Linked DNA regions of Homo sapiens: region 2 is linked to region 1. Evidence: fine-mapped expression QTL. A gene starts in region 1. The other region holds a variant in brackets. All regions are shown on one strand. Distances are from middle to middle.

Evidence for each region.
Region 2: its variant is fine-mapped to the expression of SLC6A4 in whole blood (TOPMed, PIP 0.99).

The regions. Positions count from the first base shown.
Region 1 is chr17:30,228,942-30,244,751 of GRCh38, forward strand. It overlaps SLC6A4 (solute carrier family 6 member 4), which reads right to left and starts at 6,756. Exons shown (of 15, transcript NM_001045.6): 1 at 6,672-6,756. LOC105371720 (a long non-coding RNA gene) reads left to right here and starts at 8,557. Exons shown (of 3, transcript XR_007065698.1): 1 at 8,557-8,830; 2 at 9,379-9,859. RefSeq lists promoters at 6,540-8,566, 6,540-8,324, 6,540-6,834, 6,730-8,554, 6,735-8,580 and 1 more, cis regulatory regions at 6,835-8,324, 7,196-8,020, 7,897-7,936, 8,164-8,334, 8,203-8,222 and 2 more, a silencer at 6,990-7,172 and an enhancer at 9,388-10,288.
Region 2 is chr17:30,210,669-30,224,188 of GRCh38, forward strand. SLC6A4 (solute carrier family 6 member 4) reads right to left here. Exons shown (of 15, transcript NM_001045.6): 2 at 12,151-12,247; 3 at 10,948-11,413; 4 at 8,129-8,263; 5 at 7,450-7,669; 6 at 6,498-6,636; 7 at 5,414-5,548; 8 at 4,943-5,046; 9 at 2,072-2,199; 10 at 644-756. The coding sequence starts at 11,290. Among named protein-coding and RNA genes, the nearest start is that of SLC6A4, 18 kb to the right of the region's middle. RefSeq lists enhancers at 1,994-2,453, 10,649-10,947, 10,698-10,940, 10,717-10,733, 10,756-10,772 and 6 more and cis regulatory regions at 10,789-10,838, 10,789-10,821. The variant G/A (reference allele first, on the strand shown) is at 4,201.

The sequences.
Region 1 (15,810 bases):
GGGCTTGTTTTGGGTTTCCTGACTGGGCGAGGGTGCCAACAGATCTGAGCTCCATGTGAGGTGCTGCTCTTTCTCTCCTCCCTGGAGTTAAGTCAAATGGGATCAGGGTTCTATTCTAAGGGGCCCTGTCCCTCCCTGCCTCACCCATCGGGAAGATTGGCTGTGCATCTTGTGGGCAGAGGAGGAGGGCTGCCTTAACAGTCATTTTCATGGACTATGGACAGGAAGAGACTGACATGCCCAGGATTAAAGAGCCCGGGATGGGCTTTCAGACTTTGAAACAAGTACTGGCAGGCACACCCATCAGCGGTCTGGGCTCCAAATGTTCATCTGTGAGCTGGTGGTTTGGAACTTAGAATATATTTCCTAACCCACAGAAATAAATGTGATAAACTAAAACATCTGAAACGAAAGCTGTAGAACACAGCGTTGTTAAGTGCTACACGACGGCTTAGGGGTGGGGAGGGGGCTGACAATGAGACTGATTCGAAGTTCTTTCTTTATTTTAACCTTCTTTTTGGTTCTTAAGGAAAACTAAATTTAAGGAAAGAAGAACAAGGAGCAGGGAGATCCTTGTACAGATTCCACGGAGGTGTCTTTTAGGCACTTTTGAGGTCTTTAGTTTTGTTTGTTGTTCAATTTTAAAATACACAGTAGAGATGAGATCTCGCTATGTTGCCCAGGCTGGTCTTGAACTCCTGGACTCCAGCGATCCTCCTGCCTCAGCCTCCCAAAGTGCTGAGATTACAGCATGAGCCACTGCGCCTGGTCCAAGTTCTTTAGAAGTTGATGACATGGGCTGGGCGCAGTGTCACATGCCTGTAATCCCAGCACTTTGGGAGGCCAAGGTGGGCGGATCACCTGAGGTCAGAGTTCGAGACCAGCCTGATCAACATGGAGAAACCCTGTCTCTACTAAAAATACAAAAATTAGCCAGGCATGGTGGCGCATGCCTGTAATACCAGCCTTTTAGAGGCTGAGGCAGGAGAATAGCTTGAACCCAGGAGGCAGAGGTTGTGGTGAGCTGAGATCGGGCCATTGCACTCCAGCCTGGACAACAGGAGCGAAACTCCATCTCAAAAAAGAAGAAGAAGAAAAAGAAGAAAGAAGAAGAAGAAGAAGAAGAAGAAGAAGAAGAAGAAGAAGAAGAAGAAGAGGAGGAAGAGGAAGAGGAAGAGGAAGAGGAGGAGGAGGAGGAGGAGGAGGAGGAAGAGGAAGAGGAAGAAGAAGAAGTTGGTGACATGAATTGCTTGTGACACATAATTTCACAACTTACAACTTTTTGCAGAAAACAAAACTGCTTTTACTCTGTTACCATAGTATATTTAAATGTGGACGAGGCTGGGAAAGAGACTTGAGAAACTCAAAACAGATGATGTGTTAGATTAATCAGGATTAGGAGTGTCACTTCACCTTCCAAACACTCCTTTACTGTTGTGATAAATACAATTTATGCAATAAGTAAAAATCGAGATAGAACACATGGGAACATGTCCACACACAGCTTTTCTTTTCCTTTATACAGGTATGTTACTAAGATTACCTTTGTGTAAAACAGACATGATTGGGTCCACAAAGGGACCCAAAACAGAGAGAAGAGAGGAAAAAACAACCCCAGGGAGAGGGTGCTATGAAATAAGGGTGGATTCACCTGTGGCTGCTGAGCAAGGCGGAAGAGGGAAGTGGGGAAAAGGGGGTTTGAAGTGGAACTACAAAATAAAATGGGAGTGGAGAAGAGAAAAGAGAGGGGAAACTGGCCCATTTCTCTGGGTGGGGCATGGAGGGGAGAAGGAGAGGTGAGGTCAGGTGAGGTGAGGCTGCTGGAGGAGACGGGTGCATCCAGGTGGAGAGGGGGCGCGGAGGACACGTGCAACCACCTCTTCAGCCACAAGGTGTTTGGAGTTTGGCTGTTGCTGCTCAAAGGTGCCTATACTCTTAGGTCAACAATTTCTGAGATGTGCTTTAGTGTGAGTCACACAGTTGGAGACACTCATGAAAAATCAGTTCATCCTTACACATCATTGCACCAGTCTAGTTCTCAGATATGCACTGAGATGAGAGCAAGAAAAACTTTCTGACCCCTAGTTTACAGTCTCACAGAGTAACACTGTATGCTAAAAAGGACATCATTGAGACAGCGGGGGAAATGGGAATATGAGCTGTATGTGCGATAATAGTATTGTATCTATCTCCAGTTTCCCCAGCATGAAAATGGCGCTGTGGTTACGTACAAGAAGGTCCTTGTTTGTTGGAAATCTGTGTTGAAGTATTTAAGGAAGAAGTATCTGGAAGTCTGCAAACTCTCAAAGGTTCAACTATATATATTAGTTGAACCTATATATATAGTATATATATACCTGTATGTATACCTACAGATATATATATACACACTATATATATCTGTAGGTATACATACAGATACATATAGTTTATATATACATATAGTGTATACAGACACATATATACACTGTATGTATCTGTATGTACATATGTATATATATATCTGTATGTATCTGTATGTACATATGTGTATATATAGTGTGTATATATATCTGTATGTATACATACAGATACATAAATGGCATAATTATATTAATGATCTTATATATTACACATAATATATCAAATCATATATATACTGCATATGCAAAAATTAGATATATGCATAATTAGAGTGACTTTGTACACAAATTGGCAAAATGTTAACTGGTGAAAATGGACCATATCTCTGATTTTTCAGTTGAAAATTTTCAAAAGAAAAAATAATTCTAGCCCTCAGCCAGTGCTGGGAAACTTCCAGTCAGCCAAAGCTCCCTGCTGACCAGAACAGCTTACCTCCCCTCTCCCCTCCAGGCTCTTCCCTCCCTGTTCCTTCGGCCCAGCTCCCCAACTCTGAAACAAGAGAAAGGGCCAGCTAATTTGGTTCGCCTTTTAAAGAAGACATGCCCATCATTACGGAGGGAAGAGAAGAGAGCGAAAGTAGAAGAGACTCAAGTTCTAGGCCTGGCTTTGTCCTCAAGAGCCGTGGGTGAGCTAGAGCCAGCCATGCACAGAGCTACGGGGAGCAGAACCCCTCCCTGGTCCTTCCAGGTCTCCCACTCACTAATTCTTGGCCCCTTAGAGGAAAAAGTTCCCTTAGAGAAGACAAATCAGCTTATTTTATTCAACAGTTCAGTAACAAAGGAAATGAAATGCTCTTTTTTCCTGTATACACACAGAAAGGTCACACCAAAACCCAAGACGGCAAAGGCCCACGTACTTGCCCCCTCCTGCTAGCTGCCCACCCAGTCTGGGGCTCTGGGCTCTCCCAAAGCACACAATGGGTTCGCTGTGTCCCCAGCTTTGCTGAGAAGTGCTCGCCCAGATCACCACCTGGTCTCATCATAACCCCTCCTGTCACCTCTTCCCTCCCTACCTCAAAGAATGACCTGAAGAACTGGACATCAGCATCCCAGGAGACCCTCCCCTTGCTGTCTGTCACTCGTCAGTACCTGAAGACCTGGGACATTGCCTCTCTGTCTCCACATCACTGGGTTGCGTCTCTCCTTTTGCAGCCCAGGGGCTTCTGGGATTAATGGAGGTCCATCCAGTCCTGGGTGCTAAAGAGCCTGTGGCTTAAATCCCATTAACAAATCCCCTTGGTTCAGGGTTGGGATGGAAGCTGGGGAGCTGCTGCCAGGTTCCAGAGGGGCCAAAGGAAAGATGGAAATAATAATAAGGCAGTCAGACTGCCTCACATCCACTTTATCGCTACTCATTTTGTCACCTCATTAGACACAGGGCTGGGAAAACACTTGCTCCCATTTAAAAGCGCGTTGTTGACATTCAGTAAATGAGCATTCGTCTTCCCAGTCACCCAGAGCAAACAAAAGTCAGGCTGAAGGGAGCAGCCCCTGCAGAGACGTTTCTCACAGGGCAACATTTCTGAATGTGAACCAAAGTCAGCACCGTGAGCTCCACCTGGAAGTACGGGGCTGTGCAGGCCAATGGTGGAGCCCGTGCCCACCTGGAAGAGCAATTTGCCTTTCTGCTCAGGGAAGATCATTGATGCCAGGTTTCTGTGAAAGGCTAGTTTCATCTGTTTTCCCCTGGGTCCCTCCTAGAAAGATGGGAGTTTTCTTCCCTTGGAATGTCATTTTGCCTGGTTAAGCCCAGAAACAGATTCCCTGTAAGAGCAAGGGAGTCTGCCTCACTTGTCCCAAGTGTGGAGAAACAGGCGCTTTTATGAGATGTTTCGCTCCACACCCACGTATGTTCCATGGAACACCGCAAACATCAGGGAGTGGAGGTGGCTGTTAATAGCCCAGGGACTGGACAGGAAAATCGGTGCAGCCCAAATTTGTGCTGCCTGGGGGCTATTTCTACCGCACCACACCCTGGGCATCTTGCAAAGGGCATTTGGGCAGCTGGGGAGTCGGGTTATTGGGCCCCTGTTGGTTGGCTGTGGTTAAGGTGCAGGGGTTAACTTACTTACATGTGTCAGAGTGTGCAAAGCCTCTGCCTTAGAGTGAAACCTGAGGGGATCCCCAGGAGACCCTGATTTGAAGGTGATATCTGGGTAGAGAGTACCGGCCCTCCGGCATTTTTGCACCATCATTTCAACTCATGTTTTCTTAAAGTGGAGAGGTTAGGGTCATGGTTGCAGAGTGAGTTGGAGGGGACTCGGACATCGTGTTAGGCAGTCCTCTCCACAGCCCCTCATTTAGAGCTGAGGACCACGAGGAGCTGATATGTTACTGGGAATAACTAAGGTCTGAGTTACCTTCTCAACAACAACCAAAAGTGACTGTATAATTTTTGCTCTGGCTGTCCAGACATCTTTAGAAAAAGTCAAGTCATGACCATATCCTGTTGATTCATGAAGCCAAATTAAAATTAAGCTTCTTCAGGAAGCCCTGCCTTCTATATTCTCTCCAATTATACCATTCATTCCACAACTAGGAAGGAGAAGGAGCTGCCACGTATTGGCTTAATGTCTGGAGTTACCTGTGTTTCTGTTTGGCAGCGGACATCCAGGGTGTTTGGGAAGCAAGCACCTGCTGTAAGAAACAGACTGATCCATGCTCCTAACCCCCCTCCAGCCAAGCATCCCCATTCCTCAGGCACCTCACCTATTTGCGAAACTCTTCAACATGCCTCTCCAAGTTTCATCAAAATGCTCAGACGACTCTAAACATCCCCCGAGAGGAATTTCTGAGGTCTTTCAGATTCCATTAAAACATCAACATTATTCCCCCATCCCACTCCTAGTATATATATATTTCTTAAACAAGGAGATTGAAAAAAATGGGTTTGAATATCTGTGCTGGTGGTTATATCTCTGAGAGGTCTTAGATGGATCACCAGAGTGTTGAGGGGACTTTTGATTAATTGTGAAGCACTTTCAATCTGTTCTTTAGTGGGAAAAAGAAAGAAAGAAAGAAAAGAGGAAAAACCCATGCCCCAAGTGGCTTGCTCAATTTGCACAAACCTCATAAGAACCTGCTTCTCACTCATCCATATTGGAACGGTCACTGCCACCCCAGAGTGCGTGGCAGGAAAACCCGAACCCTGGGGCCTCAGTGGCTTCACACAGAAGCAAGTAATGGGACAAAGAGTCAAAGCTGTGTGCTCCCTACGCTCCTAAAAACCCAACACTGACGCTGCCCACAGTTCTCTGTTTCATTAAACACAAGTCCCAATGTCACCTTCTTAGACATTTTTCCTATGTAACTGAAGGCAAAACACATTAAATATTTGCTCTCGTCTTCCTATGATGAGAGTTAGCTAGCAGGCTCATAAATAATCCATTGACCAGGTTCACTTTTCTGGACAAAACTGATGGTAAAAATACATACACAAAGTCTTTGTAATGTCTGATTCAGAAATTCTACCCCTCTCAAATTCTTCAGAGTCCCAAATGGAAAAGGAACAATTCAATATGCAAAAGCCCCAGTTCAGAAGAAAATCTGCTCCTTAGCCCAAGACCCAAATCCACTCTTGAGCTCCAGAGAGCTTTTTTTCAAGAACAAGTTTGAATGTACACAATTTTCAAGCAAATGATGGTTATATCCTTCAACCACGTAGCACAGTCGTTGGAGTTGGAGTTTCACATACATTCTGAATGGCCTGTGAGGTGTCTGAGAGCGCCTCAGCTCTGACAGTGAAACCACCCAAGCGCACGGAGACTCGGCCCACTTAGGCGCCACTCAGAGATTTCTCTAGCTGTCTGGGCATTTGTGTCAACCAGAACTCTCCCTTTGCATAAAGCCACCTGCACGCGATGACAGCAAAGTAAAGATCAAACATAAACCATGGGTTGAAACGAAAGCAAGCAACTCTTCCCAAAGCGCAGGACAGCACTTTGCTCAAGACCCTCTTTAAGGGGTCTTTCACGGGTCCTCAAGAGGTTGCAAAGCCCCTGCAACAATAGACAAAGGAGCCCCCTACGCCCGCCCACTTCGAGCACTCCACGTTCCTCGTCTCCCACTCTGGCCGGTCAGCTTCAGCTCTGGCTCTTGCTGAGCGTGGAGGGCGCAGGGGCAGGATCCGGCGCCCACCGCTGGGGCGCATGCACCTCCTCGCCTCCTCGCAGGGCGGTGGGGCGCAGCGGTTCTATCCCCCTCCCCGAGGCGGGGAAGAAGGTCTGGAAAGAAACGTGGGTTCGAGGCGGAGAGGAAAAGCGGACCCACCTGCCAGGCTGCGCGGGGAGGCTGGTCCCGGGCTGGGCAGGCGGGCTGGCCTCGCGCCCTCGAGGCACCCGGCGGCGCTGGCTGTGCGGAGGGGCGCCGGCGCGGCCGTATTTGTACCCGCGGGCCCTCACATGGTCTGATCTCTAGATAGCCGCCGCCAAAGAGCTCTTGAAGAATTTTTGCGTCACTTTGAGGCGAATAAACTTAATGCTTCCCCGCGGCCGCGGCTCCGCGCTCCCGCTGGATGGGGTTGCGCTCGCCAGGGAGGGGCCGCGCTACGGGGCGGGGTGCGCGCCCGACCCCAGAGCCAGGAGGGGAGGGACCCCCGACACACACACACGCTCGCAGGGAGGAGCGGAGCGCGGAGCAGCCGGCAGGGCAGGGCCGAGCGAGGAATCCTGACTTTCCTGCTCTTTAACTTTGCGGGAGGGGGGAGGCTGCACAAAGGAGCAGGTGTGCGCCTCCCCTGCCGCCCCGCGCCCACAGGACGGCACACAGGGGTCTGCTCGTGCCGCTTTCTCTTGACCTCGGACACCTCCCCATCGTCCCCATCCCGAAAGCTGCTCTCTCTTTCTTCCTGGGACCTAGCAGTACTCGATACCCATGCGTTTATCTGACTGACCGGCTGGGATGTGAGCTCAGCTTAGAGGCCCTTGTCTAATTCCTCTCCGTCCCCAGAGTCTCACAATAAAGACTTCCACAATGAAGGAATGAAGAACTGGTTCTCATTTTGTTAACCAGCTACAGTTCAAAGCTGCGTCAAAAAGGAGCACAGTGCTTTGGGAGGCTGAGGCGGGAGGATTGCTTGAGCCCAGGAATTCAAGACCAGCCTGGGCAACACAGCAAGACCCCATCTCTAGAAAAAAAATTTTTTTAATTAGCCGGGCGTGGTTGCTCGCGCTTGTGTTCCCAGCTACTCAGGAGGCTGAGGTGGAGGATCAGCTGAGCCCGGGAGGTCGAGGCTGCAGTGAGCCGTGATCGAACCACTGCACTCCAACCTGGTGACAATTTGAATTATCTGAAAGGGCCCAGCAGGAGCCTATTGTTTTGAACCATGTGCATGTAGTTTTGATAATTTTTTCAAAAAGTTTAAAAATTGATTTAATGTTAATATCCTTTTTGCTAAAATTATTTAAAACTTTAAAAAGGGCACATGCAGTACTTGCTTTGGGTTGTCCCTGAGGCGGAAAGGAGAGGGCTCTACCTCTCCCCAAGAGGAGGCCAGGAACGATAGGAAGTAGAAGACCGAAAGGAAATAGCAGTGACAAGTTTGCAGCTCCAGAGAAGCCACCGCCCCTTGTACTTGGAGGAACTGACCCCTGAAAACTGTGCGGCCGGTTGGGCTGAGCGTCTAGAGGGACTGAGCTGGACAACCACGGGCAAGCGAGGGCAGCTCCCAGCGGGTGGAGTCCGCGCGGGATTCTGGTGCCACCTAGACGCCAGGGCGGGGACCGCAAGGTGGGCGGGAGGCTTGGAGGCCGGGATGCGGGGGAATACTGGTAGGGTGCAAGGAGAATGCTGGAGGGGTGCAGGGGGGATGCCGGGGGTGCATGGGGGGATGCTGGGGGGTGCAGGGGGGATACTGCGAGGGGTGCAGGGGGGATAATGGGGGTTGCAGGGGAGATCCTGGGAGAGGTGCAGGGGGATGCTGGAAGGGCTGCAGGGGGGATGCTGGGGGTGCAGGGGAGATGCTGGGGGGGCTGCAGGGGGGATGCTGGGGGTGCAGGGGGGATGCCGCGAGGGGTGAAGGGGGGGATAATGGGGGATGCAGGAGCGATCCTAGGAGGGGTACAGGGAGTTGCTGGGAGGTTGCAGGGGGGATGCTGGGAGGGCTGCAGTAGGGACATTAGGGGTTAGGTGCTGGCATTCAGAGCGGCAACGCCAGGCGGGAGAATCCCCAACAAGCTTGGGAATTTCACCCCCAGGGGCAGCGCCTGCACGGGAGTGGGGCCTCCTCCTTTCAGATGAACACAGTTGTCTGCTGCCTCCCACGTTCCACTTCTTAAATGAGCATGTTTGTGCTGTATAGGCAAGGGCAACAGAAAACGCAAAGTGTCCTTTCCAGGAGGGCCAAAGGAGGGGGGCAGGGACGCTGGGAAGAGGCGCCAAAGCGGAGGACGGCTGCAGGGGTGACTTCAGCGCTTGGCTACCAAGACCAGGTCTGTCCAGTGTGACTTCTTAGCACTTCTTAATTGTGCAGTCTCGCCACTTCTGATCTTCCTTCTAGACTCTTTCTAGCCGAAGATGCATTCCTGCCCAGCGCGCAGCCCCTCCCTATGGCACTGCCCTGTTCTGTGCAGGTGCTGCCTAGAGAGTGGGCACCCTGTGGACCTGGGTCAAATCCCGGCCCCCACCCTGTACTGTGGTGTGGGCTTGACCGAGCTCCTTAACCTCAAGCTGTCTGGCCTTTGTGTCTCTGTTTGTGAAGTAGGGAGGATGATCTCAGTGGGCACTGCCCAGCTGTGGGTGGGGAAGGGGCCAACTCCTTGCAGGCCCTGTGCGCTGGGCCCTTCCTCCAAGGGGGCCTTCGACCCCTCCTCTCTCTGGCCGGGTGGTCCCATCTCCTCCCCTCTTGCTCCCCAGCTGCGGGCAACCACCATTAGCAAATGACATTAGAATTACACAGACGGCCCCGCCCTGGTTCCCCCTGCCTCCATGGCAGAGTCCGCACACAACTGGCCCAGACCCTCCCCCTCTCTCTAAACAGGTGTTTCTCTTCCTCCTGCCCTGGGTACCATCCCACAGAGAGGCCAGGCCCACCTGCAGGTCCTCACCTCCACAGAGCCAGCCTCTCTTGAGCAGCTCCGCTCTGCCTTCTGATACTCATCGCCACAAGCACCTTGTCCTTCCTCGGCCTCCCACTCCCTCCCTCTGAGCCCGCGCCCTGCTCCCCTGCCTGGCGGTCAGTCGACTGCCCCGCCCCGCCTCCAATTCAGGTGGACAGGCTTCAGCGTCCACTACCGGGGAAGAGGCAGCCCCGCACCCGTGCCTCCCCCCGCCTCTGGGCCGCTCCTTCCCAGCCTGAGCCTGACCGCATGAGGAAGGCACAACCTCTCTGCTCCAGAGACCTGGAGAGGCCGGGAGGCCCTGTCCTGGGCATGGAAGGCAGGAGGGAGCCCTGAGTGCGGCAGGAGGGAAGCAGCGCTTCAGGGGAAGGATCTAATGGCTGTGACCTGCGTGGGCTGCAGGTAAGAGTAGGGGGGAAGGGGGTTGTCGTGGTGGTTGGGACAGACGGGTTCCTTAGAATGTGAATGCAGGCGTCAGCTGGTGGCCGCAGGGAAGAGATGCAAGCCAGAAACCCAGCAGGCACCTGCGAAGCTTGGTGCTGGTGGTGTATAGGGACAGCCAGGGAGATGTCAAGGGCGACAGGTCCTGGGCAGCTGGGAAGAGGCTGCCTGGCAATCACCGCACAGCAATAGTTTTTCTTTGTTCACCTGCTTGAGCCCAGAAATAGTGGGGCTTAGAAGCTGCTCTGGGGCTCAGAATAAATACAAGCTTTCACTTTAAGAGGAAAGGGGCACATAAATATTTACACCTGCCCCAAACACCACCAAGAAAACCCACTTCCTGGAAGTCTCAAAGGCCAGCAGTGAGTCCCCTGTGGAGCCAGCCAGGACCGAACCATGCGAATCCCAGGCTCTCCCTCCGGAAGCCCTTGGTGCCATCTGTCTGTCCTGTCTCTGCCCTGTTTATACAATAACGAAAGAAGAAGGCCCACCCCTCCTTGTGGGCTTTTTCTCAGGCCCAGGAAAATGCTGACAATATTCAGTCCTTAGAGTGTCATCTTGCTCCATTCCCACCAGCACCTCCCCGACACCCCTGGTTTTTCCTGGGACCCCCAGTTTTTCCTGGCATGGTTCTGGTGACTCTACATTCATGTTCAGTGGCACCTCCAAGGCAGGACTTGCTGCCACTGTGAACCCTGGGCTCATCTCTACGGAGGTCTCCATGGGAGCCCCTAGCAGGCCCACCCCATCCAGATGAAGCAAGCTAAAGGGAACTCCAGACAAGGTCCTTTTGGGAGTGCGGGGGGTTTGGGGGAGGAACAGATCAGGTTCAGCCCTAAGAAAGGCCAGAAACATTTGGAAGTAGGTTCATTTTGTCATTGGTCATTTTTCCCAGCTCCTTCCCCTCATTCCTCCAGAGCCTTCTGCCTTTGCTAAACCCTCCTCCTAGCACCCCATCACCCGGTCTCCCACCTCCCTCTCCCCAGCCCCACCATCCTCTTGACTTGAACTCCCATTATCTCTCAGTCAGGTATTACGGCAGCAGCCTCACCACACCACTCACTCTATGATAACACCCCAAACACCCCCAGAAGCACTTGCTGGGCAAATGCTAATGCCAATAACAATAACTAAGACTTTTATAGCACTTTCTATCTAAGCCCCATAATTAATTCCCTCAGTCTTCACCATGGGCCCCTGCTGCTTCCACAACCCCATTGAGAGGCACAGTAATAATTGTTTAAAATCAGTAAGTATTTGTCAGATTAGCATCGATTTAAGTTTCTGTTGCTAACCCTGCTTAACTCATTGTATATTCAGACTTCACAGATAATTTTTTCTAAAAGAGAGGAAAAGGCAGGAGTGGCTGATGTGGAAAGGCCCAGCTTGAAGGATACTCACACGTGAGGAGAAATCAGGGTGTAGGTGACACCCCAGACTTTACAGATACTGTGACTACCCCACGATCTATCTGCAATCTCTGTGAGCCATGGTGTAGCAGGACGAGCCTCAGACAAAACCCTTCAGATGCCAGGTTGAAGAAGGAAGTGGCTTTATTCGGCTGGGAGCATCAGCGGACTCATGTCTCAAGAACTGAGCTCCCTGAAAAAGAAATTCCTGGCCCTTTTAAGGGCTTACCACTCTAAGGGGTACACGTGAAAGGGTTGTGATAGATCGAGCAAGCGTGGGGAACATGACTGGGGGCTACATGCATCAGCTAACAGAACAGAAACTTTTGCAATGCTTCCTCATACAATGCCTGGAATTTACAGATAACACAAGTAGTTTAGGTCAGGGGTTGATATTATTATTATTATTATTATTTTATTTTATTTTATTTTGAGACAGAGTCTTGCTCTGTTGCCCAGGCTGGAGTGCAGTGGCGCAATCTTGGCTTGCTGCAAGCTCCTCCTCGGTTCATGCCATTCTCCTGCCTCAGCCTCCCGAGTAGCTGGGACTACAGGCACCCACCACCATGCCCGGCTAATTTTTGTATTTTTAGTAGAGATGGGTTTCACCTTGTTAGCCAGGATGGTCTCGATCTCCTGACCTTGTGATCCACCCACCTCGGCCTCCCAAAGTGCTGGGATTACAGGCGTGAGCCACCACGCCCGGCCTATTATTATTTTTTAACCACCAGGGCCGGGTGGTGGCGCCAAGGTCGTCTGGCTATTTATCTTACTTCTGTTTTTTTTCTGACTTTTTGCTTTTTTCCTTATCTTCTGTCTTATAAACTAGGTGGGTCGGAGGGGAGGAGGAGAAGGGCAGCAGGAGAAGTGGTGGTCTCCTTCCTTAAGGGTTTATGATTTCTACTTCCTCCCTAGGGGATTCCCTTCCCTGACTTCATCAGCCAGGGCCACACTCCAGAGGGCAGCTGTTTTTCCCTTCCACGTTGGTGGAGATGTTGACGCCAGAAGCACAGAGAACCAGGGAGGGCCCCACCGCCCTGTACACATACAGCTGTTGCAGCACCTTGGTCCCTCTCCGAATTTCCCAGGCTCTGGGTTCCCAAGGGACAGGGTGCTGCCTCTCTCCATGCCTCAACACCTATCACTGTGTGGGCGCACAGCAGGCTCCATAAATGTACACACCAGCAATGAAGGGCTAGGAAAATGCCTCTGAGTCTTACCAGACTTAGTGCCATAAAACCAGGGCCCCAGTGGCATATCCACCAATGGAGTACCATGCAGCAGGTAGAAAGAGTAAGGCAGTTTTCTATGGGCTGATCTGGGGGAGTTCTCAAGATTTATTGTAAATGGAGGAAAAAAAATGCATAGAACAGTTGTTACTCCAAATTGTTGAGGGCAAGGCATGGGGGCTGATATGTGTATTGAAATCTGTAAGCACACAGAAGAGACTGGGAACAGTAGGTGCCTTGGAGGCAGAGGACATTAGGATGGAGGGAAACCCCCTTTGTCAATGTCTACCCTGCTATACTATTTAAATATTTGCCATGTGCAGGTGATATTTTTATGAAACTTTTTCAGAAAAGCATTTTTTAATTATAAAAGGCAAAGAAAGAAAGGGGTAACGGTGGAAGGGAGGGAAAAGAAAGAAAAGAGGGGAAGGGAAAAAAAAAGATGTTCTAAGGGGCCTCAAGTTTCTCACAAAGGAGGGAGGAGCCCTAGGGAGTTTGAAGGAGTTCAGCTCCATGTTACACCAGACGCACTACCCACCAAATCGTGCCACATTACACATCACCAGTGCTGTTCACTTAAGCAGGACATTTTTTTTTCCTATTTATTAGCAAAGATGCTGGGAGCCAAGAGGTGAAGTCCAAGGCTTTGCTCAAGATCTGATCAAAGAGCTAGACCTACTCTTAGAACTCAAGCCCTCTGCTCCCAGCTCCTGAAGCCAATCCTCTCTCCTGTACCCCATTTCCATTTTTCTTTCTCCTGCTCAAGTTTATAAGACACTCACCCTCTCTTTGGCTCTTCCTCTCAGCAAACTTCAGGGTAAATTGTGCCTCTCCATCTAGGAAGGGCTTCCCTTAGTTTCTTCTTGGTAAGCTGATCACCGCGTTCACTGTGGGTTGAAGTTACTTTAAAACAAGTCAGCACGTTACCTTCTCCAACTTCAAGCCCTTTCACAATTATTACGGAGTTTACTGCAAGATCTCTCTCATATAAAGTCACCTTTTCAACTGGTTCATGCATAAACATGTTATTTTCCCAAGTAAATGACAAATTTGGTTGGAGAGAAGGGAATTGTTTTAACTCCCAGAGGGGCTCCCACAACACTGGACACATTGAAGAATCTCCATGAGAACTGTTTTTAATAAAAGCTGCCATTTATTGAGCCTCTACTAGGCACATTATATGCATTATCTTCTGTCCTTTTTCTACCATATGGGAAATATGCAATATAAACTGGTATTATTATTTTTGGATAACTATATATGTTATCAAAAAATATAGTTTTCCTCAGCCAGGTTTCAGGCTGAGTTCTCATATTTAATAATTTTTTTTTTTTTTGAGATGCAGTCTCGCTTTGTCATCCAGGCTGAAGTGCAGTGGCGTGATCTCGGCTCACTGCAACCTCCGCCACCTGGGTTCAAGCAATTCTCCTGCCTCAGCCTCCTGAGTAGCTGGGACTACAGGTGCCCACCACCACGCCTGGCTAATTTTTGTATTTTTAGTAGAGACAGGGTTTCACCATGTTGGTCAGATGGTCTCGATCTCTTGACCTTGTGATCTGCCCACCTCGACCTCACGAAGTGAATAAATTTTAATATTGTTTTTCAACAAAGGAAGCATGGAAACAGAGGCTGAGAGAGATTAAGTAGCTTCTCCACATTTATACAGACTTGCCAGGTGTAGGCACTTATATGCTTGCCAAGTGGCAAGGCCAGCATATCTGAGTCCAAAGGCCCTGCTCTTCCCGCTGTGTTGGGCTGATTTGAAACAAAAAAGGTTCAAGCAGTGAGGAAGCCAGGTAAGCCTCTGTGGTTCTCTCCCTACCTATTCTCCCCACTGCCAGGAACCTGCATGAAATGAAATCAAGACCTTAATGTGAAATGTTGAAATACAAACATCTCCAGGGGCTTTGTTCTTGTTCTACTTGTCCCTGCTGAGCAAGTTATAGTGAAGCTGACTTCAGGTCTATGTAAAAACTGTTCGTTAATTATAGCTGTCAGAATAGAAGGTGTGCTCAGTGTCAGCCTACCCTATATTTCCTATGAGCCAGGCACTTGAGTATACAGTCACAAGCAGGACAAAGTTCCCGCCCCTGGGAGCCAACGGAGTAACTGACTTTGGGGAAAACAGACAATACACATATAAATACATCAGTACCTCCAGAAAGTGGTAAGTGCTGTGAATAAAACAGACCCTGTAACAGCATGGAGGTGGCAGAGGCAGTAGGAGGAGGGAGTTGGCTGCCTAGATAAGGTGGTCAGAGATGGCCTTGACACTGAAGGCGTGACCCGAATGAGAAGCCAGCCATGCAAAGACCTGAGGGAAGAGCTTTAGGTAGACGGAACAGCAAGGAGGAACAGCAAGGAGGCGGAGATGAGTTTGATGTGTCTGAGGGACAAAGTGCGGGACAGGGTGGGAGGCGGTCAGTGGCTGGCTGAAGCAGAGTGTACAAGAAGGGGAGTAAGTCGAGTCTGGAGAGGTGGGCAGGGGCCACAGTGAGAGGCTGTGTGTTCCTGTCAATGTGTGCAAATAGAACTTAAAAGACTTACTCGTTTTGGAGAATTTTGGACTAGGTTAACCCATAAGGTCTCCGCCAGGTGAGATGCAGGGATGCTGCTATGCTAAGTCAAGCACCCTCCCATACTCTCCATCAAATAGCCACCCTGCCTTGGCTGCCCTAGCCTTCTGCACAGCAGCTGATTTTTAAAAAACAAACAGCTGTCATGGGGTAACCTGAAAGATGGCTCCAGAACTCATTCTGTCCACTTCAAGACGTGCTACCAAACTAGAGTTTTTCCAGAGGAGTCAGCAAGAGGGAAAGCACTGAGTATTCAAACAATATCCAGGAAAGATGATGTGGAGGGTTTCCCATCTGCACACAATCCTCTTTCCAAATAGCTACAGCTAGCCAGACGCAGTGGCTCACACTTGTAATACCAGCACTTTGGGAGGCCTAGGCGGGCAGATCAATTGAGGCCAGGAGTTCAAGACCAGCCTGGCCAACATGGCAAAACCTTGTCTATACTAAAAATACAAAAAAAAAAAAAAAATTAGCTGTGGTGGCGCATGTCTGTAATCCCAGCTACTCTGGAGGCTAAGGTGGGAGAATTGCTTGAACCCACGAAGTGGAGGCTGCAGTGAGCCGAGATCGTGCCACTGTACTCTGCACTCCAGCTTGGGTGACAGAATGAGACTCAAAAGAAAAGACAAAACAAAGACCAAATAGCTGCAGCTGTTGTGAATTGAACATTCCCCTATTTCCTTTCCCTCTGCAAT
Region 2 (13,520 bases), 19 kb before region 1:
CACGGTGGAGGCTTTGGGACAAGGCTGTGGCCTTCAGGACAGTGAACAGGAGGGAGGGGTAAGGTTGCTAAGTGACTGGTCAAGCTGATCATCACCAGTTCCCCGGCTCGCTGGACCATGTAAGCATCTCAAAGAGTATTTCCCTGTTTTACACTGTCATTTAAAGCCCATCACTAAGGAGAGCCAGGAAACAAAATAGCACACGTGGACAGAACTTCAATATATGAGGTCTCTCGGGGAGACTCCGTTTGCACCAGAAAGGCCAACTCAAAGCTGAGACTCACTCCACACTAATAATTCCAGGCCCTGAACTGAACCCTTGGCAAAGCAGAGACCCAGGAGAGACCTCGCCCCGGCCTGTAGGCGCCATAATTGGGCCAAGGGACAGTGCTTAATAACAGTTCACATATGTGAGCCTTGGGCCTCATAAGCGCCTGGCGCTTGACCCACTTTATCCCATTAATGACTCGAATGTACCAGAGGGTGGTAAATGCCGAGGAGTCAGCCGGGGGTCTGGAGCACCAGAAGGGAGTAGCCAAAGCTGCCTGGGATGGCCAGGGATGGGAGGGAATTGAGTCCAGCTGAGTCCTCCTCCTTTCCTCTTCATCCTCCCACAGCCCATTTCCCCTTCCCATTTCCTCACCGTGCTGTCCAAGCCCAGCGTGATTAACATCAGAAAGAAGATGATGGCAAAGAAAGTGGACGCTGGCATGTTGGCTATCGCTTCTGCATACGTGATGAAGAGGAGGCTGGGACCTGAGACAGAGGGGAGAGAGGAGGAGGTGGTTGACAAGACCTGTCCTACAAAGATGTCACAGAGGAAAACTCAGCCACAACAACAGTTACAATTCTCATCACAAGACCTTATGTGTGAATCAGGTTTTGACACACACCAAGTGCGTCCTCACACTCTACTCCGTCTGACGTGGCCACCCCAGTTCCTGGGAGGCAGGAAGGGTGGGGCTTCCATCTTGAAAACTGTGTGCCCTCCATTAACCCTGGGGGTGGGTAACAGATCCAAGACCCAGAGACTGGCAAAGCTGCACATGAGAATAAGAGTTTCCACCATATAACAATTCCATGGGATTTCTCAGGACCAGGATTGATATTTCTAAAGTCCATGACAGTTAGCCCCCTCTGATGTCTTCAGCTTCAGAACAGTAGGAAATGTTAAATTGATTTCCGTAGAGTCACAGAGGCTTTGGAATAAAGACCTCTTTCTATTTTAAAGTCCCTTTTGAAAGTGTGAGGGACATGTCTTCAGCCTCTCATGGGTTAGCTAGGGGTGCCCTCGTTTGGGGTATGGGGTTGGTCAAAGCACCGAATCAGGCCAAAGATACAAGCATGCTAACATGCTTGTAACAAGAAGGCCCTGGGACCTCGCCCACTAGATGCCATCATCTGTTTTTTCTCCCTCTGTTGCTCTTTTCTTTTTCCACAAAAACTTCACGGTAAAATAGAGTGGTCATATTGGCTAGATTTTCTTTTTCTGCAAGGGGCAGTTCTAAGGATAAATGATATTTGCTTACTAGACTTTGAGCCATCACAAGACCATCACAGGAAGCAAACCCACTGGTTTTAAAGCCATCATCAGAGTCATCATTTCAAGCCCATAGATTTTGGAGGCCCCAGAACTGGGTGCCAAGGGAGTTGCCCTGTCCCTGCATGGCCTGAACACATGGAAAGATCTCTAAGGCATCGAGCTTCTCTCAAATCTTTGAATAAAAAATGTTTTGGAAACAGGGTCTTATTCTGTCACCCAGGCTGAAGTACAGTGGTGTGATCATGGCTCACTGTAGCCTTGACCTCCCAGGCTCAAGCAATCTTCCCACCTCAGCCTCCTGAGTAGCTGGGACTATAGGTGTGCACTACCATGCCCAGCTCATTTATTTTTTTATAGAGGCAGGGTCTCACTATGTTGCCCAGGCTGGTCTTGAACTCCACCATGCCCAGCCTTCTTTGGAAAATTTCAGGAACATTTAGAAATAAATCAAAAGTTAGATCTTTACAAAGATTCAAAGCAAAGCAACTCAGTAGGAGCAAGGGACCTGCATAGAACCCGAGGTCCTACCTGCGTCTTTGGCCACCTCAGACACATCTTCATTCCTCATCTCAGCCATGTAACCGAGCACTGTGAAGATGACAAATCCCGAAACGAAGCTCGTCATGCAGTTCACCACGCTGGTCACCAGGGCATCTCTGGAGGGGAAAACCCAAGGGGCCGCCTGAGACAGTTCCAAGATCAGGGGTCTAAGGAGCATCTGTCCGTGTGCCTGCCCTGCCTTAGACAGGGCGGCCACAGCAAGGACAAGCAGGCTGAACTCAAGGAACCTCAAGCCTGTCCCGGAGTCCCTTCGCCTTCTCCCAGAACCCAGCTGCCGAGGCCTGAAGCTCTGACTGCCATGACCACCACACATGGTGGAGGGAGAAGAGCAGTCAGGGGTGCTTTAAAAGGCAATCCTGCTAGCACAGACCTCTCCATTTCAAACCAGCCTTGTTCTGGAGCAGGGCCCAGGTTGGAGTGGGGGCCAGGACAGGGCCTGAGCCTCACATTTGTGAGATCCTCAGATTTAGGCTTTATCTTCAAACTAAGTCACAGACTGCCAGCCAGAGAGATACCCTCATTTTTTTTTCTTTTTTTTTTTTTTTTTTGAGACAGAGCCTTGCTCTATTGCCCAGGCTGGAGTGCAGTGGCTTGATCTCAGCTCACTGTACCCTCTGCCTCCCGGGTTCAGGTGATTCTCCTGCTTCCGCCTCCCAAGTAGCTGGGATTACAGGCGCCCACGACCACGCCTGGCTAATTTTTGTATTTTTAGTAGAGATGGGGTTTCCCCATGTTGGCCAGGCTGGTCTCAAACTCCTGATCTCACACTTTTAAATGACAGCCTCATCATACAACTGCAGGGTGGTGTCCCAGTGCAAGGCCACATTGCTTAGGGTACATGTGAATCTCCCTCCCACCTTTAAAAAAATCAGTTTTACAATTATCTTATGCATAGCACAAAGAGATTGATGGATGCTGCCATCTGTGATCAATTAAAATTAAGTCTAAAGATGATGGGTGACATTTATTTATTTATTTATTTATTTATTTTTGAGATAGGGTCTCCCTCTGTTGCACAGGCTGAAGTGCAGTGGCATGAACACAGCTCACTGCAGCCTTAACCTCCCGGGCTCAAGCAATCCTCCTGCTTCAGCCTCCTGAAGAGCTGGGACCATAGGCATGCACCACCACACTCAGCTAATTTTTAAATTTTTTGTAGAGATGGGATCTCACCATGTTGCCCAGGCTGGACTCAAACTCTTAGGCTCAAGTGATCCTCCTGCCTCAGCCTCCCAAAGGGCTAAGATTACAGGTTTGAGCAACTGCACCTGGCCCAGTGGGTGATATTTAAAACCATAATTGGTGTAACATTTCCTGTTCTGTTAAAATTTCTGAAATAGGATTTTGTTGCAAAAATTATGGCATTTTGGCTGGGCACAGTGGCTCACGCCTGTAATCCCAGCACTTTGGGAGGCTGAGGCAGGTGGATCACCTGAGGTCGGGAGTTGGAGACCAGCCTGACCAACATGGAGAAACCCCATCTCTACTAAAAATACAAATTTAGCCAGTCGTGGTGGCGCATGCCTGTCATCCCAGCTACTCGGGAGGCTGAGGCAGGAGAATCGCTTGAACCCGGGAGGCAGAGGTTGTGGTGAGCTGAGATTGCGCCATTGCACTCCAGCCTGGACAACAAGAGCGAAACTCCGTCTCAAAAAAAAAAAAAAAAAAAGAAAAGAAAAGAAAAATTATGGTATTTTGTGTTAGTCAAAATAATGTGATCATCATACTTTTTGTTTATACATAATACAAATAATCACATTACAATTTTTATTGTTAAACACATTGACTAGTTAAACCTAACTACTTAATTGTATGTTGCAGCTTTTTGTAAACTTGCTTTGCAATTTCTCTTTCTTTCTTTCTTTTTTTTTTTTTTTTTTGATGGAATCTCACTCTGTCGCCCAGGCTGGAGTGCAGTGGCACAATCTCGGCTCACCGCAAACTCCACCTCCTGGGTTCACGCCATTCTCCTGTCTCAGCCTCCTGAGTAGCTGGGACTACAGGCGCCCGCCACCACGCCCGGCTAATTTGTTTGTATTTTTAGTAGAGATGGGGTTTCACCGTGTTAGCCAGGATGGTATCGATCTCCTGACCTC[G/A]TGATCCACCCGCCTCGGCCTCCCAAAGTGTTGAGATTACAGGTGGGAGCCACCGCACCCCGTCTCTCTCTTTCTTTCTTTCTTTCTTTCCTTCCTTCTTTCTTCTTTCTTTCTTTTTCTTTCCTTCCTTCCTTTCTTTCTTTCTTTCTTTCTTTTTTCTTTCTTTCTTTCTTTCTTTATTTCTCTCTCTCTCTTTCTCTCTCTCTCTTTCTTTCTTTCTGGAATCTTGCTCTGTCACTCAGGCTGGAGTGTAGTGGCAAGATCTCAGCTCACTGCAACTTCTCGTGCCTCAGCCTCCCAAGTGGCTGTGCTTACAGGTGTGCAACACCATGCCTGGCTAATCTTTGTATTTTTAGTACAGACAGGGTTTCGCCATGTTGGCCAGGTTAGCCTGGAACTCCTGACCTCAGGTGATCCACCTGCCTTGGCCTCCCAAAGTGCTGGGATTACAGGCGTGAGCCACCATGTCCAGCCTCTTATTATTTTTATATACAGGAGCGCTGACAAAACCGAAGGGCATGGGGCCCCTCTCAGCCTGAGTGGCCCAGGTGAAGCCACGGCCTGGATGAGTGCTCTGGCCATGGGTGAGCTGGTCAGGGGCCTGCAGCACCCCTGAGGGGCAGTGGTATCAAGGCCTAAGCCTGGCCAGATTCGAGGCCGTCGGTCCAATCACCTTCCTCCACACTAGCTGACTTTCACTCACGCCACTTTCAAGCTTTGCTTGGGGACCCCAGATACTCACTGGTAGCAGTTGTTGTTGAACTTGTTGTAGCTAGCAAAAGCCAGCAGGACCCCAAAGCCCGGACCAAGAGAGAAGAAGATCTGAGCGGCTGCATCTATCCACACCTGGAACACAGCAGGGGTAAGGGCATGGGGTGAGGGGGAGACACAGGCTTACCCTGGCACCAACAGGGTCGCCACTCCTGCCTCCATGTGGCTAAGTGCAGAGGCAGAAAAACAGCTTTTAAGGCTCATTCCAGGCATAGCCATAAACCAAGTGCCAACAAATGTGATTTCTCTTCCTATGATTCAGGCATAAACCCATCCAGTGGCCTCAACTGTACTTTAATGCTTGTATTTCTTGGTTAAAGTATCATTGCAGACTTGCACACTGAAGCCACATTTCAGTTGTCCCTACTGTCCTATTTGGAGGAGGACCAGCTTCGTTTAGTAAAATGACAGACAGGTACACATATTTCCCTCATCATCTTACCCCTGTCTCCAGGAGTTTCTGCCAATTGGGTTTCAAGTAGAAGAGAACACCCCTCCAGGCTCCAGGGAGGGTGGCACCCCTCACCAGCAGGACAGAAAGGATGATATAAGGGAAGGTGGCTGTCACCCACACCACCTGTAAGGAAGAAGGGTTATCACCATGCTGTTCCAGGGAGGGGAGGGGAGGGGAGGGGAGAAGGAGAAGGGAGCGGGGGAGGGGAGGGGAGGGGAGGGAGGTGGGTGAATGGATGTCAGTGTCTTTTATTCTTGAAGACCTTGAGAAAGGAGGGCGAGGTGGTGTGGCAGAAAGATCACAACCCTTGGAGTCACACAGGGATCGGATTCAGGTTGGCCAGGAGAACTACCTCTGAGCCCACTATGCATCTGTAAGGTTGAGGGAGTATCTAGCAGGAAACAATAGCACTGGCCAGTGTATAAAAAGCACTGAACATGGTCCATGATGGGTTTCCAGTAAGTCATTGCCACGATTATTAATTGTGGTACTACCAGTGGGTTGAAGGAATCTTGAAAAAAAAAAATCATGTAATGGTTCTTGGCATTGGCCCATTTCTAGAAAATATTCTTTTTTCTTTTCCTTTTTTTTTTTAGTGAGACAGAATTTCACTCTGCTGCCCAGGAGTGTAATGGCATGATCTTGGCTCACAGAAATCTCCACCTCCCAGGTTCAAGTGATTCTCTTGCCTCAGCCTCCCGAGTAGCTGGGATTACAGGCACCTGCCACCACACCTGGCTATTGTTTTTTTTTGTTTGTTTGTTTGTTTGTTTGTTTGTTTGTTTAAGTAGAGATGAGGTTTCGATGTGTTGGCCAGGCTGGTCTTGAACTCCTGGCCTCAAATGATCCACCCACCTCAGCCTCCCAAAGTGCTGGGATTAGAGACGTGAGCCACCATGCCCAACCCACTTCTAGAATTTTCTAACAAATGCGGTGAAGAGAGAGAGGGTGCATCATGGAATGTGTTTGGTGTGGAAGGAAACAGTGCTGTCTGTCCAGGCTACTGGGTTTTGAGTTTGAGAGCCTGTGGGCCCCTGGGCAGGCCTGGGTCAGCAGCCAGAGCCTTCCTCACCTTGCCAGAGGTCTTGACGCCTTTCCAGATGCTGAAGTAGATAACAGTGAAGATCAGCATGATGCAGAGGGCCAGCTGCCAGCTGATGCCCCCCAGGTCCTGGAGCCCCTTAGACCGGTGGATCTGCAGGACGTGGCGCCTGGGGTGAAGGAGAAAGAAAGGCCCCTGAGAGGCTCTGTAGAGTGACCTGGGCACACATCTGTGCTGCTCCTTTGAGGGTGCCCGGGACAAATGGACACGGTGCTGCTAGGACCAAGTGGTCACTGAGGCCCAGGAAGAGCTGGGATTGGCCCTGCCTGTCCTGAAGGACCACAAAGCACATTTGGCCAACACCCTGGGAAGAGTGTTCAACCTAAAGGCAGACTTCCTGGATTCTCCTTTGCTGGATGGGACCTGAACTCCTTTGACCAATGTGACTGGCTTTTGGGAACATGAGGGATGTGTAAGTGTGGGGAGTTGGCTCCCTTCCCTACCCCAAAGTAGCTCTCTCTTTGGGCTGCCATTGCCTGAAATTCCAGCATTAAAGAAAACTACCTTCCTCAAGCATCTTCTTCCAAAGGGTAGATCCCACTTACGAAGTTGACACATTAAACCATTTGAATAGTTTTGAACTATCAAAGTACTAGGATGCTTCGCCTCCATGACATTTGGCTGAGAGGAGGACCCCGGAAGAAGGGGAGTAATTTTGGAATGTGAAGGGAGGGACGGGCTTGGGCGCATTGGAGCAAACTGACTTGGCGCATGAGAAAGTGCAAGGAGGCACAGCAGGGCCAGGCCGTGGAGCACTTGAGGTAGAGTTTCCCAGCTCCAAATTCTGCTACTCCCACCCCTGATAGCTTCATCTCTCAGAAAGGGGTGAGGAGCCCTTGGCCCTGGCCTTCTTTTTAAGAAGCCAAACCCCAGGGGTGTGGCCTGCCCCTAACAGGCCAACCCCTCACTTACGTGCACTTACGTGTAAAATTCTTCAGCAGGGGACGTGGAATGGAGGGTCCAGGTGATGTTGTCCTCGGAGAAGTAATTGGTGCAGTTGCCAGTGTTCCAGGAGTTCTTGCAGCTGGTCCAGGGCAGCTGGTCCGTGAAGGAGGAGATGAGGTAGTATAGCGCCCAGGCCATGATGGTGTTGTAGTAGGAAGCAATGTAAAAGGCAATGATGCAGATGGCATAACCAATCCCTGGGCAGTGGGTGAGATGGAGAGACAGAGGCCGAGTTTAAGGGTGGCCCAACGGCAAAAGGCTGAAACGGGGCACTGGAGAGCCCCGCAGCCCAGCAGAGGGGTACACGTGGGTGCTGCCCTCCATTCCATTCCAAGGACTCCAGGCCACCGTGGGAAAAGTGGCCCTGCCGTTAGTCACTCATATGTATTTGCAAGGTAACATGTTTTAGAAAATGTGTACATGTCCTGTTAATGCTTTAAAATGTTTACATTAGTTTACTTCTCATTGCCGTTTATTCTGTTTCTCTTTGACAATTTCACACCACTTACGCAGTCAAAACCTTAATTACTCAAGCAGTCTCCCAGGGATGCCTAAGGCCTGACTGATTCCAGAAGAAGGTCCCCAGCTCCCACCCACTGATGGAAATCCCTTCCTGAGAGGCTCCACTTACCCACCCCACCGAGCCCTTCAGTTACCTTTGAAAATCGGGCAGATTTTCCTCCATATTGAAATGCATCCATTTCGGTGGTACTGTCCCAGTGCGAGCTCCATGTAAAAGAGCGGGATTCCCCCAAAAATGGCCATGATGGTGTAGGGGAGGAGGAATGCCCCTGAGGCAGATGAAAGACAATTTCACTCCCTGCCCACGTCTGTCCCAGGATAGCCCAACCAATCTGTGACTGAGAATCACAGTCGCCGGATGATGTGAGTGTCAGGAGCCACCCTGGGCTGAGTGGCCTCATGCTGTGCTCCTCTGGTCTCAGTGCTTTGCTAGAAGCAGTCGTAGGGGGAGCACCATGACTAAAATGAGGTTTCAGAGGAGGCCAAGAGAGCAATTGGGAAGAAAGCCTGGTTTGGGAGTCGACAGAACAGGCAGGATCACATCCACTTATGACTACCTGGAGAACGCTGGGCCACTTCCCCTCTCTGAGCCCCAATTTCCTCCCTATAAAAGAACACAGTTGAGGAGAGCTGAGTTTCCCAAATGTAGCCACACATCATAGTCACCTAGATTCCTGGGTCTACCCCAGACCTCCTGAAGCGGAATCTCCAAGCATGGGCACAACACAAAAATTGTGTTCAAGCTCCCTAGGTGATTCCGATGCAGCCAGTACCTGGGACCCTTGGAACAGATCACCTGTGACAATCTGTAGCAACAGCTGCAACTCTCTGTGAGTCACCAAATCAGTATCTTTGTTCATCAGTATTATCTATGGCTCCAGACACATGATTATTGATATTTGGCTACACTTCCATAATTCCATTGAGCCAGAATGCTCCCTGACAAGCGCCGTTTGCAGGAGTGGCTGGACAGGGTAGTTTTTCACAGAACAAGCAAGCACAGAGCTGCTACCTAACTGGAGATGCTGGTGTCTCCTGGATCTTGTGGCTGAGGCTGAATTTAAAAATACCAAGTTGGGGAATGCTAACCTGCAGCCTGAGTTTTTAGCCTAAAGGGTGGATCAGCTGTGATTTTCCCTAATTTTCCCTGCTGTAAAATGCTCTGAACCCAGAAACCTGAGGTCTGTGCAAATCAGAAAGGTCCATGTAATTTACAGTCACACTGGGTAAACCCGGCTCGAGAATAAAACCATGTGTTCTCGTGATGGCCTTCCTCCAAAGAGTTTGCTTGATCAGCTTTACGCTGGGGAATGAGTGTCGGGGAAATGTCACCAGTGACCCAGCCCCTTACATAATGCCCAGGCTAAAGGTGAGTCCTCTGGAGCAGGAGATAAGGTGATTATGACTTTTGCTCCTCCTAGGCAGGAAGCGCTGAGCTTCCCAGGGGCCCCCTGGAACTACCTTTGCAACTACATGGACAGAAATCTTTAAAAGAGAGTAAATCCAGGCCACTCTGTGTTAGGTCACGGGAGAAGTGAGGGTGACACAAATGGATGATCCCCAAACCTCTTTGTAGCTGCCCTCCCAAATCTGTTGTCAGAGTTCCCATGAAAATCAAGCTTGACGCATCTGACACCCACTTCTTGTTATTTTCTTGTGCTGATAACAAGTCCAGAGGCCCCAAACCCATTCACTTTTCCCCACTGCTCTGCTCTCCCCCAGGTTCCCATCTTCATGCCTACAGTCAGCTACTATTTTTTATAATCTACAAGTTAACTACTTGAGAGGCTTTAGGGGTACAAGGAACAAGATAGGGCCTCTGGCCTCAAAAATCTAACATCCCAGGAGGAGATAGGAGGGCCAGCCATGCGTGGTTTGAGGTTGGTATTAATGTCATGCTGTGGATCTAATCCAGCTTAAATTCTGCCCAGACTGGTAATTAAGATTTAGGACTTAACGCTGATGCCCTTCTCTGACCTCACACAGGTCCAAAGGATCAGAAGCATCTGGGACTCTGAAGCCACCTCCAAATTTTCCCTTACGCAGGCCTACCCTCGTGGACTCTTCCCAGCAGAACTTGCCAGCAGGAGTGAAGGGACTCAGCACAGGGCTGACGGCCATTCCCTCACTTCTGGCTGGGGGAGGACAGAGCCTGGAGAATGCAGGATGAGAAGGAGGCCCTTCAATAAATGGAGCGCTAATGATGCTGGAGATCTGTGAGGTCAGGTTTGGGAGGGCTTCACCCAGCTTCACAACCCGGAGAGCCTCAGACACGCTGTCTTCAGCTTTTGGCTTGCTGGAGATTTGACTTTTTTTTTTTTTTTTTTTTTTTGAGACAGAGTCTCGCTCTGTCGCCTAGGCTGGAGTGCAGTGGTGCCATCTCGGCTCACTGCAACCTCCACCTCCCAGGTTCAAGTGATTCTCCTGCCTCAGCCTCCCAAGTAGCTGGGACTACAGGCGCCCACCACCATACCCAGCTAATTTTTATATTTTTAGTGGAGACGGGGTTTTGCCATGTTGGTCAGGCTGGTCTTGAACTCCTGACCTCAGGTGATCCACCTGCCTCAGCCTCCCAAAGTGCTGGGATTACAGGTGTGAGCCACCACGCCTGGCGAGATTTGACTTTTCTACCAGCTCGAAAGTCTAAGTCATCATGTTCCTAGTCTTACGCCAGTGAAGACTGAAAAGACATAATCTGTCTTCTGGCCTCTCAAGAGGACCTACAGCCCATCCCAGGTCACAGCCCACCCGGGTCACAGCCCACCCCAGGTCACAGCCCACCCGGGTCACAGCCCACCCCAGGTCACAGCCCACCCGGGTCACAGCCCATCCCAGGTCACAGCCCACCCCAGGTCGCAGCCCACCCGGGTCACAGCCCACCCCGGGTCACAGCCCACTCCGGGTCACAGCCCACCCTGGGTCACAGCCTCTACTCGCAGCCTGTGATACTGACCCCCTCCATTCTGGTAACATATGTAGGGGAAGCGCCAGACATTGCCCAGGTCCACAGCATAGCCAATCACTGAGAGAAGGAAATCCACCTTCTTGCCCCAGGTCTCCCGTTCCCCTTGATGAAGCTCAGCCACTAGGGTGGTGGTGGTCGCTGGGATAGAGTGCCGTGTGTCATCTCCCGCACCAGGACTTGGAACTGCTGAGTACCCATTGGATATTTGCCCGGACTCCACTTTGTCCCCTGGGGTGGGAACAACCTTCTGTAGAACTCCGTTTTCCTGACAATCTTCTCCATCTTCACACGCTGATAGCTGCTTCTGAGAATTCAAGGGCGTCGTCTCCATCCTGCTGGTTAGTAAATGACACTGATGTCCATCTGCCAAGGATCCCAATTGATCTCTGGGTGCTTGGATTTGTGGATCACCTCCGAGCTCTCTATCGTCGGGATTGACACGTCGGGATTGACTCTGTTGGAAAGACACACAGAGGAAGGAGAAAAAAGTTAGACATTTTACTCATCTTTGGTATTAACTCATCATACATCTTAAACTACATTAGTTAACGGGATTACAAATGCATCTGTTAAATGTGAGACATCCTATTTGCTACATGGCAGTCCATAAATTCAACTAAATTTCTCAACCTATACAGGGCATCAAATGACAATCAAGTAATTTCAAAAGGAAACAATAAAACCAACACAAATAGACAGCAAATCACCAAGGTTTGCACAGGCTGGACTGGAGAGCAAAGCACTCGCTTCCCTTTGAGCCACTGGACTCTCATCTTGTGGTTTGCCAGCAGCTCAGAAGAATGTGAGAGAGGCTCCAAAGCGTCACAGAGCACCCCCTTTGTCTTGGATGCTATGTTGGGGAAACAATGACAAGCAAAGGCGTTTCTGCCTTTCAGCAGGCAGGACAGTCCTCACCATCATTTAAGCTGCACACCCAAAGTTATATTTTATATCAACTACAGCTATGATTTTAAAAGGAAAAAAGCAAAGGACAGAGGTAAAAAGGCCACCCTTCGTGAGGCACCCCAGCTCATCAGCTACAGATTCTGTCACTCGTCTTTTAGCCCCTAGGAAGGTTGGGGCAGATTTGAGCTGCCTCCGGCTGTGTCCAGTCTATCTGCACATGGCCTTTCTGCGTTCCCATTATGCATTTGCAAGCCCGACTGGTCCTTAAACGGCACTGCTGCTCACCATTTGTTCTTCTTTCCACTTGCCAGCAACTCCTGTGGCTAAGCCCCTTGTTATTCTGCAAGAGAGGGCAAGCAAGGTCGCCTTGCCTCCAGGAGACCTAGGGAGAAGAGTGTGCAGGTTACTGATGCTGGGGTGGTTGGTGTCGCCGTCCCCCTGTGCCTCCACTGGGAGGGCCTGGCCGGGGCTGCTGTGCCTTCATTTCACCGCCGTGGCCTGGGCGCAGGGAAGTCAGCTCAGCTCTGGCTTGAGGTCTGAGTCGTCAAACGTGGGGTAGAAATTTGAGCCCTTTTGGACTTTAAACCTATGGCCTGTTATAAAGTTGTAAGCAGCAGTTGTAAGACTGTTCAACTGCTCACTCTGTTTCTTCTGGGCCTGAGCTTTTCAAACTCTTGAAACAGTTTGGGAGTTGAAATACGTTTCTGCCTAGCTGAGATGACACTGGACCCTTCTAGAAAAGATAGCCAGGGATGGACTGTTTATAACTGCAATGATCTGAGGCTAACCCTCCAGATCCAACAGTTAGGAGGATGGCTAGGAACTGGCTAATAGAAATGGCGCATGGATGTCTCCTACCTATTTGGGGTTTTTGGTGACTGCAACTTAGCTACCTACACATGTGAAGACAAAAACATAGTAAGTGAAAAATCAGGACACAAAATAGTAGCTTCACAAGAATGACTATGGCTATAAACATGAGCAAGGATTAGACATGAACACCAGGCAATGTCAGTCACTAGGGTTTGGCGTTTGCTGCATTTTTTCTGTAAAGTGGAAAATAAAAATTTTAAAGGGATCGATTGTTGCCAAAAATATCTACAGCAACAAGAGATAAATCAGCTTCATGTAGCTAGGGGCTGTGTGTGTGTAAGGGGAGGTAGACGTCTTGGGCTGTACCGCACTTGTTGGGCCCTCCGCCACCCACCCCAGGCTCAAGAATGCAAACACCACTCAGAAGGATATGAATTCTGACAAGAGCGGTCTCCATAACCTCACCCTGCTCACCATTTATGCTACTGCCTGGCCTTGGCCTCCCCCCACTTCCCCCTTCCTTCGGCCCTCAACTAGGCTTGATAGGCTTTTAAAATAACCACACATCCTCTCACCCACCATAGGTAACCATTTACCAGGCCAAGGGATATTATTATTTTATTACATGATGAGATGTCAACATATTTAAATATTCAGCTAAATTAAACCTGAACTTGGTAGTCAGTGGTTGTGTTGTTTAAAAAGGCCTCTGTACTTCCCTCCGGCCTATATCAATGACATGTTTTGTACGTTAAACAACTGACGAACTTGAAGGCCAAATGGCAGGGAGGAAGAGCTTTTCCCTGTGCGGCTGGAGGGCACCGAGTTGACAGAGCTGCTCC